Linked DNA regions of Homo sapiens. The protein of the gene in region 1 interacts with the protein of each later gene in a biochemical or structural test. Each region holds a gene or a part of one and is shown on either strand. Other genes may lie near its edges.

The links.
Region 2: the proteins of NOX4 (region 1) and SIRPA form a complex in vitro, tested with the Homo sapiens proteins (one study listed by BioGRID).

The regions. Positions count from the first base shown.
Region 1 is NC_000011.10:89,488,187-89,496,099, reverse strand, and holds the start of NOX4 (NADPH oxidase 4), read left to right. Parts: upstream 1-4,724; 5' UTR 4,725-4,853; coding exon 4,854-4,910; intron 4,911-5,121; exon of another isoform or gene 5,122-5,127; coding exon of another isoform or gene 5,128-5,247; intron 5,248-5,339; exon of another isoform or gene 5,340-5,415; coding exon of another isoform or gene 5,416-5,493; intron 5,494-5,546; coding exon 5,547-5,642; intron 5,643-7,106; exon of another isoform or gene 7,107-7,251; intron 7,252-7,913. UniProt on the Homo sapiens protein: NADPH oxidase that catalyzes predominantly the reduction of oxygen to H2O2. Can also catalyze to a smaller extent, the reduction of oxygen to superoxide. May function as an oxygen sensor regulating the KCNK3/TASK-1 potassium channel and HIF1A activity.
Region 2 is NC_000020.11:1,918,896-1,926,679, reverse strand, and holds part of SIRPA (tyrosine-protein phosphatase non-receptor type substrate 1 isoform 1 precursor), read right to left. Parts: intron 5,286-7,784; coding exon 4,968-5,285; intron 4,368-4,967; coding exon 4,035-4,367; intron 1,917-4,034; coding exon 1,803-1,916; intron 1-1,802. UniProt on the Homo sapiens protein: Immunoglobulin-like cell surface receptor for CD47. Acts as docking protein and induces translocation of PTPN6, PTPN11 and other binding partners from the cytosol to the plasma membrane.

The sequences.
Region 1 (7,913 bases):
CACTTTTCCCTGGCTCCCTGGTGGGCCTTTCATCCTTGCAAGGGCCTCAGGGACATGATGGAGTTTCCTTTTCTCTTTAATGTCCCTTTCGGTTACTCAAACCTCTAGGATTCTTTTACCCACTCTACCAGTTTATGCTGCATACTGGGATGGAGCTTTCCTAGGTTCCTCTTTTCTCTTCCTGAAAAAACACACAGGCTCTTTTTACATTGAATTTTAATACTAATCCCTCCTGGTAATTAGACATGAAATAACAAAAATGGTAAACTATATCAAATTACAATGGTTAAGAAATCTTACTGAATTCTATCAGGCATGTTTCCTGGTCTATAATTTTTGACTTCTTGAGGGAAATGCTAACTAGGAGTCCCAAACATTTATTCTTTAAGGTAAATTTCTCCAGAAGTCTTATTCTAAGGCTAGCATATCCAATCAGAGAAAGAAAATTAATATGATCTAGGTTAATTAGGTGCTATCCTAGGCTAAATAATAGCCACCTAAAGATAACATATCCTAATCTCAGGAACTTGTAAAGTTACTTTATAAGGAAAAAGGGACTTTGCAGAAGTGATTAAATTTAAGTATCCTGCATAGGGATATTATCCTGGATTATCTGGGTGAGCCCTGAATACAATCAAAAGTGTCCTGGTAAGAGAGAGGCAGAGGGTGATTTGACACACACACAGATTGAAGAGGAGGAGGCAATGTGACCACCGAGGCAGAGATTAGAGTGATACAGCCACAAATCAAAGAATGTCAGCAGCCACTGGAATCTGGAAGAGACAAGGAACAGATTCTCTTTAGCACATCAGAAAAGATGGTGCATTAGTTGCAGTGGCTCATGCATGTAATCCCAGGACTTTGGGAGGCTGAGTCTGGTGGATCACTTGAACCCAGGAGTTTGATACCAGCCTGGGCAAAATGGCAAAATCTCGTCTCTACAAAAACAAAAAACAAAACCAAACAAACAAAAAGCAAACTAACTAAAAATGAACCAGGCGTGGTGGTGTGCACCTGTAGTCCCAGCTACACTGGAGGCTAAGGAGAGAAGATCACCTGAGCTTGGGTGGTCAAGGCTGCAGTGAGCCATGATTGCACCACTCCACTCCAGCTTGGGTGACACAGCGAGATCCTGTCTCAAAAGAAGAAAAGAAAATATTGTGATCTGGTGAACACCTTGATTTTGAACCAATAATACTGATTTCAGACTTCTGACATTCAGAACTGTGAGACGATAAATTTCTGTTGTTTTAGCCCATGACATCTGTAGTGATTTGTTAGCACAGCCATAGGAAACTAACAGAAGGGCCCACTTGTCTTAAATTCCTATCGTTTAACCTGTGGGGTTGGTAACATCCATTTTAAGGGGTTCTTGCCCCGTTTCTTTACCTTTTCTGGTCATTAATTGTCAAGCTGAGCAGAAACTATTTTTATATTACTGGAGAGTTATGCTTGAGAAATTGGGATTTGAGAAAGGCACGGAAAGAAAGATGATATACTTAACCACTATTCCTTCATCTAATAAACGTTGTGTAAATTCCTACTATGTGTCAAGCTATGTGCTAAGTCCTAGAATAAAAATGGAGTAAGACAGGATTTTTGTCCTTAAGAAGTTCAGTTGAGTAGGAGAATTAGACACACACATACGTATAATTAAATTAATTTGTGGAAAATGCAGTAATGATTATGTAGAAAGAGTATTGTATTTCCCCAGTGCATTTCATATTTTGAAAAACACTGTCTACAAAAAAGTTTCTGTGTTTAAGTAATATATAATAGGTTAAGAACAGTTCTAACTGCCAATAGGTTTTATAATTAACATAGGAAGATCAGTGTTATACTACTAGCTTACCATTATTTCAGCCAAAAATCAAAGGTATCTGTCATTTGAGTTTTTATTGTAAAGTCTGTTCCTGGAGAAAGTGTGAATTTTCTTATAATATTTAAAATACTGATGTAGCTACAGAACTCTCTCCCCATTACTTTCAAGAATGGCCTTTCCTAGTTTGGGAAATACAGCAACTATGTCATTAAACAATCTGGTTGGCCAGGCACGGTGGCTCACGCCTGTAATCCCAGCAGTTAGGGAGGCCGAGGCTGGTGGATCACCTGAGGTCAGGAGTTCAAAAGCAGCCTGGCCAATGTGGTGAAACCCCGTCTCTACTAAAAATACACAAATTAGCTGGGCGGGTTGGCACATGCCTGTGATCCCAGCTACTCTACTTGGGAGGCTGAGGTGAGAGAATTGCTTGAACCCAGGAGGTGGAGGTTACAGTCAGCCGAGATTACGACATTGCACTCCAGCCTGGGCAACAAGAGCAAAACTCCATCTAAAATAATAATAATAATAATAATAATAATAATAATAATAATAATAAAACAATCTGGCTTAGAGAAAATTGTATTGCAAACAATCTCATTAATGAGAGTTCCTGCGTAACAGGACACTAGCTCTGTCCCTTGGGGATGGCTTGGAGTACTGTTTCCTGGTAAAGCAACATAAACAGATCTCAGTCCCCTCTTACAGAGTTATGAAATAATAGCCATAAGTAATAACCAACATTTATATAAGCATTCCATCATTTTACAAAATAATTTTACAAAAGTAACTGATTATAGGTTGTTTTAATTGGAAGCAAACCCAGTTTCATTACCTCAAGCAAATTTCTTCATCTCTTTTAGCTTCCGTTTCTCATCTCTTTTTTTTTTTTGAGATAGAGTCTTGCTCTGTCGCACAGGCTGGGTTGGGTGCAGTGGTGCGATCTTGGCTCACCGCAACCTCTGCCTCCCAGGTTCAAGCAATTCTTCTGCCTCAGCCTCCTGAATAGCTGGGACTACAGGCGCCTGCCACCACGCCCGGCTAATTTTTGTATTTTTAGTAGAGACGGGGTTTCACCATGTTGGCCAGGATGGCCTCCATCTCCTGACTCCGTGATCCACCCGCCTCGGCCTCCCAAAGTGTTGGGATTACAGGCGTGAGCCACCGCGCCCGGCAGTCCGTTTCTCATCTTTAAAGTGAGAGTGCTAACACGCACATGGAGGGCTACTATGAGAATGGAGTGAGATTTTGTATATGAAGTAGCAAAGACAGAGCCTGGGACTTAGTAGGTACATTATTAAGAGTTGGAGCCATTTTTTAAACCTTTTGTCTTTTTGTTATTTTTGCTGTTCTGAAAGTCTCTAAGCTTTTAAAAATGGTCTCTTATTTTACTATTCTTGAATTGTTTCACGCTTCTCAACTCATGACAAGAACCTATTCTGCCAATGAACCTCCTGCCCCCATCTATTGAAATTAAAGCTTAGGAGCACCAGTGCATCCCAGAATTTGACTTCCTTCCAGTGGAGAGACCCCTTGGGTTTTTCGTGTGCTCTTTCCCTGATCCTTTAGGTGTCACATGGTCAGAAAGAACATAGTATTATTTATAAACAATATGCTCTCTAACTTCAGAAAGATTTAGGACAGCTTTCTGGATTTGGTCATGCATGAAACAGGAAAAACAGGCTATTAGAAAATTGTGTGAAGTCTAACAGGGACTTGATATGAATTCATTTTGATTTTTAAAACTGAGGACTGCAATCATTAATCAGTTCATTAAATTAATTGGAATAAGTATATTGCATGTAGTGAGAGTAGTAGTATTTTTTGAAATTTTAGTTTTAATTATATCCTATGGCCTGTGTTGTAAGATTTTTTATTTTAAGAGTTTAAAAGCCATTCGATTAAGCAACTAGTAGTAAACTTTTCTGTCTCTCATTAGTTGTTAAATCTAGAAAAGTTATTGGTTTAACAAACCTTTATTGGATATCTATTTTGCATCAGATTTTTTTCTACATGAATGACATTTTTTTCTCTCTCTTTTCTAATACTGATTTGTTGCAGTGTCGAATAGGTACCTGGGTCAACTCCACACACTTCTCACTCTTCACTGGACCTCTGGTACAAGATTGAGAGGATTCCTATTACTTACAAACAGACTAGGTATTAAAACAAAAAGATTCCCGAATAGAGTGAACCTAACCTAGAGCCCCTAAGAATTACATCAGCTTTAACCATTAATTCCCTGGGTTCTTCTTATTCAGTAATGTCTTAAAACCTTTTTATCAGTATGGGATGGGCGGGCAAGGGGATAAAGAAACTGGCGGCTGGTGGGAAGCCTTAGGTAAGGCTGTCAGGGGGGCTTTAGTTTGGGAGTGGGATAATTTGCTGAGGAAGGGTGGGAGAAACGTGAACTAGCACACAAAAGGCTGTTTCCGGCTCAAATTTCGTTACCAAGGCTCTTTGAGATGAACTTTTTTGGGGGAAAACAATCAGTCTAAAAGAGCTGTGTCTTCTTGTGTGTGTGTGTGTGTGTGTGTGTGTGTGTGTGTGTGTACAAGGGGGCGGCGAGGGTCCCCACTTTTAGTATGAGTAGCATTGTTCACATGTTTGCCAGTATTTTGGAGCCTGGCAGGCCTGGGTAGAGGCTGCGGGGGACGCCTCCAAGTTCCCACCCGGGACATCCTGAACAGCAGCAGCCACAACAACAGGCTCGCCCCTAGACAAAGGGGCCGGCGCGGCGGAGCAGACTGGTGCAGCCTGGGCCGCGCGCTCAGAGCGCTGGGCGTCTGGGCAGCTGAGTGGGCAGAGCTGACCCGGTGCGGGTGGGAGTCAGGGCGCCCGGAAAACCCGGCTCTGGGTAGCAGACCCCGCCCGGGCTGGCTCGGCGCCGGGCCTTCGGGCTTCCACTCAGTCTTTGACCCTCGGTCCTCGCTCAGCGGCCCGGCAGGCCGCACAACTGTAACCGCTGCCCCGGCCGCCGCCCGCTCCTTCTCGGTCCGGCGGGCACAGAGCGCAGCGCGGCGGGGCCGGCGGCATGGCTGTGTCCTGGAGGAGCTGGCTCGCCAACGAAGGGGTTAAACACCTCTGCCTGGTAGGATGGCGGGCTAGGCTCTCCTTGCGTTCTCTCTGTCCTGCAGTGATTTTGATTCATTCTCTGAGCGTGCACGGGTGGGAAGCTGGAAGTGGAAGTTTTGTCTTAATTCGAACATTCTCAACTTACAAAACTTTATGCTGGAGATAACAATGAACACTCCCCCTCCCACCCCCTCGCCTGTCCCCCAAATGCATGAGAATTTTTCTGCACATTGATGGGAGAGATGTGGAGGAAGAGGGAAGAGGTCATTTTCCGTGAATACAGCTTTTCTTTTTACCCTTTAAACATTTTTGCTCCCTTTGTTCTTTTCCCAGATTACTTCTGTTTGCTTGGGGTATGGTGATGTCATTAATTTCTTAATCTCATTTTGTACGGCAGGGGATAGCTGTAAATCATTTAGGAAACCTATTTGCAACCCAAATGCTTAGTCTCAGGTGAAAGGGCTGGGTAAAGTCAGATTTGTTTTCCTCTGAGTGGTTTTCAGCTTGCTGGTTAATTGAAAATGCTTTCTGCAGTTACTGATTTAGGTTCCATTGAAAGCACTGTGTCGAAGAATTTACCTGTGGTTTCTATTCATCAGGTAATAATTATTTTCAATTTTTGTTTTCTGTCTCTCATGTCTGATTGGTTTAGTTCATCTGGCTCTCCATGAATGTCCTGCTTTTCTGGAAAACCTTCTTGCTGTATAACCAAGGGCCAGAGTATCACTACCTCCACCAGATGTTGGGGGTAAGTAAGGTGAACTTGGATAATCTGGTGGAATGGGTTTAACACTGGCAGACATTGCTACAGGTTTGGTCAGTTCCATTCATTAAAGAAATGTGCACTCTTCACTTTGAAAACCTTTGTTGTTCTCTAAAGTGGTCACATTTTCCTGATTTATCATTTACACTTGTACAAGTTAAAAAGATTGACTCTCTCAAGAACCAAAGGTAATATCTGCTGAAGTGAAACGAATGAACCTGCCAGACCAGGTTATTGGTGCCTTAAAAAAATTGCTACTTATTGCCAGCTGCTAAGTACCCTGAAGGATCTGATTCACTAGGAGGATCAACCAATAACAAGCTTTTAGTATATACTTATCAGTGCTTTTAGCCTGCTCATGAGCTTATCCAGAGGATTTCTGCACTGTTTGTTTTTACTGACAACTCTCACAAAATATGGGTCTAATGGGGTTATTCATTTCTGGGCAGTTCTCAGTGCTTGCTTTGGGTTAGTGGCTGATGATATTCCAGTATTCTACTATAATATGAGAAAGATACTGGGCAAAACTTTTTTCTGATTTATTTTATGTTAATATTTTTCTTTCTTTTCTATGATGTTTCTGATTTCATTCTTCTGTTCCATCTCCTTCTTATTTGACTGCTTAACAGAAGATAGTGTCACTGAAGGCATATTACTTTGCACAAGGAGATTGCGTTTTCTTTTTCTTTCTTTCTTTCTTTCTTTTTTTTTTTTTGAGACAGAGTCTTGCTGCGATGCCCAGGCTGGAGTGCAGTGGAGTGATCTCAGCTCACTGCAACCTCTGATTGCCTGGTTCAAGCAATTCTCCTGCCTCAGCCTTCTGAGTAGCTGGGACTACAGGCACGCACCAGCACACCTGGCTAATTTTTGTATTTTTAGTAGACACAAGGTTTCACCATGTTGGTCAGGCTGGTCTAGAACTCCTGACCTCAAGTGATCCGCCTGCCTCAGCCTCCCACAGTGCTGAAATTACAGGCGTGAGCCACCATGCCCGGCTGAGATTGCATTTTCTAAGCAACAAGCAAAAAGTGTAAAACCCTGCAAAAACTTAGGGAACCTGAAAAAATAGATTTTGCATTTTGGTGAGTGGGGGGGTGCAGAAAAAAACACATTTTGCTTTTTTATTTTTTTTCATGGTTTAATGACTACTTAAAATTAAGACGAGCTCAGACAAATTCAGTGGAACCAGCTCTCCCTTCTATGTTTTACATGGAGAGATCTTATTTATCTGTAATTCTCAGTACCCAGACTAGTGATTGGCACATATTAAGCCTGCAACAAGTTGCAGTTGAATTAATTAATTAATTTTTTATACAACAAAGTAATATCATAATCTGTTGATCACACACTTTATAAAGTTTAACTTCTAGGTTTTAAGCCAATGGGTTGAAAAAAATAGTCTGTAAAGCTAAACCCATTTCATTTATTTCTTTCATCCATCCAATCCAGGAACTGTCTTGAAACCTATACATTTCAGATGGGCACCCAGAGAGTAAGACCTCACCTCGCCCCTCAAGTTGCTTACAATATAATGGAAAAACCAACAAATAAATAATTATAATTCAATAAACAAGAAAAGGTTTCTTCTAATAAACACATGAGGTCTGATAACTTTTTGGTTTTGTTTTCTAGTATTTCCCCATTAGGTGTAACTTAATGAATAGGACGTTTTTCAGTGGAAGCTTTATCTCATCTATTACATAACTTGATGAACAACTTGGAGAAAACTCTTTAGATATAGAATGGTAAAATTTGCTCTGGATCACGAGGTATTTGTATTAATATAAAAATCTAAGAACTGGAAATTTATTGCAATAACCTAGAAAGCCATAACTGAACTTTGGATTTTAGCTTTGTGAGATAGTATAAGCTAAAATAACATCTTATTTCTTAAAAAAATAATTATTTGGAAACCAACTCATTAATTTTCATGAACTTGGATACTGTATAACTGAATTTCAAATTTAATTTGGTGGTAAGTCAGATATGATTAAGATCACATATGCACAGAAACATAAACCAACAAATTTGGAAAACATTTAAACTATGTTTCACCTCTCTACTTCCATCCCACTTCACTGCTTCTGCTTGAATAACAGACAGGGTAATGAGCTTCAAGGACTGCTGACACATAGGGCTCAATAAATATTGATCAAGGGAATGAAGAAAAAAAATGATAAAAGGACCAAATGGAAGACTAGGAGCATAAAGGATAAGAAACAGATTCAAGAAAGGAGAGGTTGTTATAAATTAGTT
Region 2 (7,784 bases), on another chromosome or scaffold:
GGTTAGTAATGTCACCCATGAGGTCTGTGGTGAGCACTGACTGTTACTACAGGGAAAGCACAGTGAGCAGTGCCTGGCACATTGGAACTGCTGGGGGATACTAGCCGTCCCTGTCACTGGAGCCTGTGTTTGAGAGCTAGGCTCTGCACACAGACCTGCCACTCGGGCTGGGTGGCCTTTACCAGAGCTGCAGCCCTGCAAACTCCATTCCTCTGCAACACCTAAGCCCACAGTAATGAGCTCACGTGTGCCAGGAGCTGGCGTGCTGCCTGGGCCTGAGACTCAGAAAGGATGGCCAGGATTTCACTATCGGCTGCTATGAATGCTTCATCCCATGGGATGGGCTGTCACCCTTGGTGGGGAAGGGACCTGCTTCCCCATCCAAGGAGGAGTCCTCCCTGTGTGGGGCTCTCCAGGAACTTTAGGGAACCCATTGGGTAGACGTCTTGGTGGGACGTCTTGCAGATTCTGGAGAAGCAGGGCCTGACTCCAACCCTCCCAGACAGAAGCATCAGGCTTGGCCAGTATCTCAGAGCCAGCCCAGGAGGGAGGGAAACTTGGGAGGCAGAGGTGAAGGAGCTACTGAAGGGATGCGTGATTAGTGTACAATGTGCCCAACCAAGCTCAGCTGTGCCAGGCCACAGAAAGGCAGCTCGGGACAGCACTTGTCCCTTTGGAGGCGGTGGGTCACAACCAGCATTTTAAACAGAAAAAAGAATATGACAAAAAAGAAAATATCAGTTTTAATTTTATATACAAAGGGTGTGTGTATGTGTTGGGTTGAGATGTGAAATGTATTTCTATCTCTTGTAATAAAAAAAGGTTGCAGAAATACCAGCTTAAAATTGTCTTCTCCAAGAGTGGGAAAGAGAACATGTATTTATGGCGATCCTAGAATGTGTCAGACCCGTTATTTCACATGGGCTTATTTGGATCTTGTAACTTCTCCAAGACAGGCGTTGCTAAACCCATTTTACAGATGGGGAAACTGAGGCTTGTAGAGGCCAAATTGATTGTTTACAGTATATAACCAGGGTCTGGAACCCTGGTTTGTCTGACTTCAAAGTCAGAGGCCCTGCCACAGCAACAACCAACCCTCCCAACAACCAGCACACACACACAGACACACACGTAACACGTGCACACAAACAAGGGGAAGCGGTGTCCTGGGTTTGACCCTGTGCCCTCCTGCTGTGCAGTCAAAGGCTATGCACCTTGCCCTGTGAGGGGGCTTTCTAGGGAGGTGGCTCATATTTCTGGGCTCACATACAATACGGGTAATAATCAGGGCTGACATACATTGAGCACTTGTGTGCCAGGTTACTTCCCTAACATTTCCCATGCAATCACTTGTTAAGTCCTCCCAATCAAATGGTGGCGCTATTATCTCCATTCCCTCTGGCCTCCTGTCCAGGGACTGGTCATGTAACCTAGACTTGTACCAGGAAAGCAGAAGTCTGCCGGGAGGCTCCTGGGAAAGACGATGTCCTCCCTGAGACAGGTAAGAAGAGTCCCTGCCTCCTCTCTTCCCAGGCTGGCAGCTCCCTTGCTCAGTAGTGGCCCCTTGAGGACACGGGGCCTGGGGCAGTGATGAACATCTTGTAACCATGAGGGGGAAGCCACAGAGTGACCCACCCAGACTCTAACATGGTGAGGCCACTGCCCCAGCCCTAGCACCACTACCTCTGGACTTCTTGCTACTGGCAGAAGCTGATGTCCTTAACCCAAAGCACCTAATGGCGTCTCCCTCCGAGGACAGTCCAGGGACAAACCCTTAGGGAGGAAGAGGGGAATGCACCCACCTTTCTTCTGTCTGATTCGGACGAGGTAGAGGGCCGCCATCAGTAGGGCCACCAGCAAGGTGCACACCACACCCACCACAATATAGATGTTCCGTTCATTAGATCCAGTGTTCTCTAGGGACCACATGGAATAGAGGCTTCACGTATGCAGATTAAAAACAGAAAACCAAACCCACCACTGCTTTTCACCACTAAGCAGGCATCATTAACTGAGAACATCTGGCTGGACCTTCTTAGATGTCTCGAGCCACATGGGCACACTCATGGGTCTGTACACACTTGCCCACGAGACTCATCCATGAACAGCACAAAAACCATGCTGAGGTGCCAGGGGGGAATATATTTGTAGCTGACAGCTACGGAGGAACCCCTGCTGCAGGATACAGGCAGAAATCTCACTCCTGAGGAACAGAAACGTTCCTTCTCATCTGGAGTGAACCACAGAGCGGTCATGAGGGCACCCCAGATCCACTGGAAACTGAATCAGCAGCTGGAAGAAGGGCAGTGCGGCCAGCAGGCTCTGCACAGCTCAGGGGCTGACGACCGGTCTGTGCCCAGCACCTGGGCCATGCACACTGGGCTCAGGAGTTAGCATAGGGGCTCTGAACCAGGACTCTTGAAAATACAATGGAGGCTTGACTGCCCACAGCACAGGTAAGGGGGTCATAGACTAGAACACAGTGGTTCATCAGAAGCAGGGCTCTAAGCCACAGAAAAGTGCTTTCAAATCTATGCTACTAAGTAGCTGTGTGACCCTGGACAAGTCAGTTAAGCCTCCCTCCAAACCCTGGCTGCTTCTTCTGTTACTGGGGCCAACAGTCATCTCTACCTCATTGGCTAACTAAGGATTATGTAACCAACCAACCAACCAACCAACCAACCAACCAACCAACCAACCAGCCAACCAACTGACTCTTTTATCCTCTTTCACTCAAAAAGCATTTACTGAGTGCTTACTGTGGTCAGGCCCTGAAGCTACAATGCTGAGCAAGATAATCATGGCCCCTACCAGCTGAGACTCAGAGCTGAGGGGTCATGAAGCTCATCCCCTTCAACACAGCCAGAAGCAAGTGGAGGCCCAGAGAGAGGCACTGACTTGTCCAAGGTCACACAGCCAAGTATGCAACATAGCTGGCGTGGAAAGCCACACATCCTGTCTCCCAATGCCCTACACATCCCATGAAAACCTGGCATTGCCCAATGCCCTACACATCCCATGAAAACCTAGCATTGCCCAATGCCCTACACATCCCATGAAAACCTGGCATTGGCCGATGCCCTACACGTCCTAGGAAAACCCGGCATTGGCCAATGCTCCACACGTACTATGAAAACCCAGCATTGGCCGATGCCCTACACATCCTAAGAAAACCTGGCATTGGTGAAACCAAAGGGCCACTTTGACACAGCCCCAAGGCTGTCTTTGAGAGCTTCCCTGAAGGGTGCATGAAGGACAGAAATGGCTTCCATTCTAATCCATTCAAGGGTTCTACTATGTACAGGGCATCAGCCACATTGATAACAGGTGATGAAATATTCCATGGCTGCACTGAAATGCCAATCAGGTGCCACCATTTGAAAACAAAAGAGATGTACACCAACACCACGTTGCAAGGGCTGAGAAAATGATACCTTGACACCCTCACACTCTCTCAGGGGAGCGACAGCATTATCTCCTCCTTACATGAGTATGCATTTTGGCCTAAAGTGTTCCTTGGGCAATCACACAGAAATAGTCACATGTGGGATGGAACATGCACAAGGATGTTCACTGAAGCACTGACTGTATGTGAGACAAGCTGCAAACACCCTGAATGACTCCACCCTGGCTTCCAGTGGGGCAGGCTCCCAATGGCAGCCAGGGAGATGAGGCAGGGGCTAGAAAGAGTAGGGAAGAGGGGCTGGGCCAGTGAGGAATGGGGAGCATGACAACTGTCAGGTGAAGAAGGCAAGAGGCAGGACACCATGAACAGATGGGCCCCCTCTCTCCCTCTTTCCTCCTGTGATATAAATCTATGTCAAAAGATCTATCAAGATGTGCATCAAACTCTTACCAGTGGTGACTCTTGGAGTGTGGGATTTGGGGAAATGGAGCTGACATTAAAATTCTACTTTATATTTATAGACTTCTAGATTGTTCTATAATAAGCATGAATTACTACTTTTAACATTTAAAAAACCCACAAAACTAAAAGTTTAAAAAAGCTGGGTCAGCTGAAATAGAGGCCTCACCAGCGGCGGTATTTGAGCCCTGCTCCTTCGGGTGGGCTGAGACCTTCAGGTCATGGCTTTTGCTGACCGCTGGCTGCCCGTCATGCTCCACCTGGCAGGTGAGCTTCACATCATCCCTGTGGGCAGATACATTCACCAGGAGCCAGCTCATCCAGTTGTAGGTACCATCCTTGTTCTCTGTAACGGTTGAGGCCGTTTCTGTCCGGGACACGTTTCCATTCTCCAACCAGGTCAGCTGTAGTCTCTGGGGGTAGAACTTCCTCACCTGGCAGGTGACATTCACCTGGTTCTCTGCCCTCACGGGCTGTTGAGTAACCTCCAAGGTGGGTGGAACTGAAACAGCACAGGGCAGAAGCTCTGACCTTGTGGCACAGACAGATCACAGGGAGGGCTCCATAACGTAGCTCCCCCACCACGGTGAGGTCATCACCAGGACAGAGCTAGGCAGGCATCAGGTGCTCAGACATTGAGGGTGCTCTTTGCATATGAATGAAATTACTAAGCACAACGCCCAGCACACAGTAGGTGCTCAAGGACTGGTAGCTCCTACTAGGCTAAGAATGAGGGAAATCTATAAGCACCACCCCTGGCATGCAGTTGGAATGTTGTAACTGTAGCAAAATAAAGAAAATCACCAAGCACATAGAGGCTTAGTTCATAGTAGGTACTCATTAACTGTGTTTGCTATCAGTGAAATAAATGAAACGGCTAGCACAGTCCTTGGCACCTGGTGGGTGGTGTGGTCACCCAGCCACTGCCATTAAAATGTTAGTAAGTGGCTGGCACATCTAGGGGCATGGGAGGTGGGCAGTTAGGAATTTAGGTTCCAGGCATTTCAAGCCCTGGAGCAAGAGTAGAGCTGGATGAGTGGAGGGTGGTGGGGGGTGGGCTTGGCGGTCAGGTGTGGGCTTGGGCTGGGTGAGGGTCTTCTACCTCGGATGGTCTCAGACAAGTTGGCAGTCCCACGAAGAGGGTCCCCCTGCAAGGTGACGTGGGCCACCTCGCAGATGACTTGAGAGTGAACGTCCTCGCGGGTCAGCACCACCTTGGCTGTGCTGTGGATGCTGTAGGACACGCTCTCTCCTACGGGGTCCACGTTGGTCTGGAAGTCTGAGAGCTCATTCCCATTTTTGAACCATTTCAGGGTGATGTCTCTGGGTGAGAAGCCGTGGGACTCGCAGGTGAAGCTCACTGTGTGCTGAGGTGTGGCCCTCGCCGCAGGGCCCGATACCACGGGGGCAGAGGGTTTGGCTACAAAAGGACCATCGATAATCAGGAGACATGACTCAGATGACAATCACTAACGATAAGTGTGTGACACGTTAAGAACCTTCTGAGACATTATTTTTTATCCTTCCAATAATGTGGAAGGATTAATGAGGGCGGTGTCCTTATTGTCATTTTACAGAGCAGGATGCAAAGGTTGGGAGAGGTGAGGACCCATGTGAGGTCAGACAGTGTAGGGGCAGGGCCCAGAGGGAAGTCCAGGCCTGAGTTCAAACTTCTCCACTCCACACAGGGTGACTTCCAGCAATTTGGGCACAGGATCAAAATTAACGATCCATCTCATCCTTGGTATTAACTGTTTCTACCCTGCCTCCCCTGGCAACAGTGCCAACCTCAGAGAGAGCGTTTATAGAGGTCAGTGCAGGGAGTAAGCAGCAACGTGGCATCACCATGAGAGCTGGAACCAGGCCGCTCAGCCCATGAGAGGGGCGGCCTGGCACACCCAGCTCCTTGTCTGTAAAATGGAACAGCAGCATTTCTCCTTTCTGGGATGCAGCGAGGATTAAATGAGGCAACAGAAGCAGTTTTGCTTTGGATAAACACAGAAGATGCTTCACAAAAATAAGCAAAAACAGATCTAACTTTAACCCAGACTTTATTCATATCCAAAGCTCTCTCTTCAGGTATTTATGAATTTACTTCATATTTTTCATTTTCTCCACAAATATTCCAGCAGGGTCTAATCTGTGCCAAGTGCTAAATTTGAAAGGAAGGGATACTTTTCTGAATCTGCGGTCTTCTTTGGTGTCAGTTTTAGATAGACACTAAAGATCACCAAGTGTGGAGAAAGCCAAAGTGGTTAATTATCAATTAATTACACAGACACAGGGCGCCCAAGCAGGCAGAAGCACTTCCTGGGTCCTGAAAGCACACACATGGCTGAATCAGAACGCGGGCTGTTTCTCCCTGCAGATGGGTCGTAAACGTGTCTCCAAATTGCTAATCATTACCCCATACCTCCTATCGCAGTCACCAGGAAGCACATATCACACATACTTGCATTTGTAAATATTAACTTCTCCCTCACACCCATCAAACATTTTGAGGGCACAGTAAGGAGGGTGTCACTTGAAGAAGTCAAGTCATTGAGGCCAGCGGCCTGGATGTCCCCACAGGGCTGAGGGGCTGCAATCAGTTCCCATTTATCCAGGGCTTCTCTGGAGCTGGACACTGGCTGCTCCCTCCATGCCCGTCAGCTCTTTAATCCTCACTCCATCTCTGTGAGGGGATCCTCGTGTGAGCCCCTTTTAGGACAAAGCTCAGAGAGGCCCAGGGCCAAAAGTGGATACAAACCCCACCCTGTTAAGAAGAGGGAGGATGAATGCAAGCACAGAGCCTGGTATGCAGCAGGTGCTTAATAAATGACCCCTGTGACTGTTATCAGGAGGTCTGGTCATTACTGCTTCCGAATCTACACATTTATCCTTCAGGCAGCAGAACAAAGCAGAGCAGAAACACCAAGAAAAGGCTCAAACCCTGCTCCCTGTGGCTCATGACAAACCCAAATGATACAAGGAGCAGAAACCACCAAGTGAGGATTCTCTCCCCTTTTCTAAACAATCCCCTCAGGAAACAAGTTTGGCGAATTGGCTTTCAAAACACAAGATCACAGGCGCCTCCCTCCAGAAGAGCCATTTACAGAAGCTGGAAGCATTTTAAAGGAGGAGGGAACAGACTCCTCCGTGACATCTTGGTGTGTCGAGGCAGGGAGGGTTCTGGGGCCGAATTGGAAGGATTTGCTGGGATTCCGGCGGTCATTTAGACAAAAACATTTTCAGGATGGAAGGTTTCCCCACACTGAGGCTGGATCTGAGCAGGGCTTTGTCTGGGGCCCCTACCTTGGCCCCCGAGGCCTGTATCATAAGAGGGGGTCTGGCCAGGCCACTGGGGCCTCCAAAGAGCTGTCCCGGGTGCACGTTGTTCAGAAGCATCCACACCCTGAAAAGCTGTTCTCCCATCTGGCACCCCAAGAGGACCATCTTTTCCAACTTGTCCTCCGTGACCTCTGGGTGTCTATCCCAGGGGTTTTCAGTCCTGACTCTGTATTAGAATCTTCTGGATTAATTAAAAACTTTAGATGCCTAGGCCCATGCCAGGCCAATTGAAGAGGCATTTCTGTGGTGGAGCCTGGGATTTATTTCAATGTTTCCCAGATGATCCTAAAGAGCAGCCAAGATTGAAAACTACCTGAGTACATCCTAAGGACCATTTATCCTTGAGGCCTGGAGGAGCACTAACCCATCTGAGGTTGCATGGCTTCAGCATCACACAGCTCACATCTGTTGAACATTGACTGCAGGCCAGGCGCCTGCTGCCCTAAGCACGCTACAGGATTTAACTCATTCGGTCCCAACTCCTGGTCTGTGAGGTTGGTGTTATCACTGACAAGTGAGGACACTGAGGCCCATGGTGGTGGAGTGCCTTGTCCCAGGTCACAGAGCCAGGAGGTGGCAGAGCTGGGAT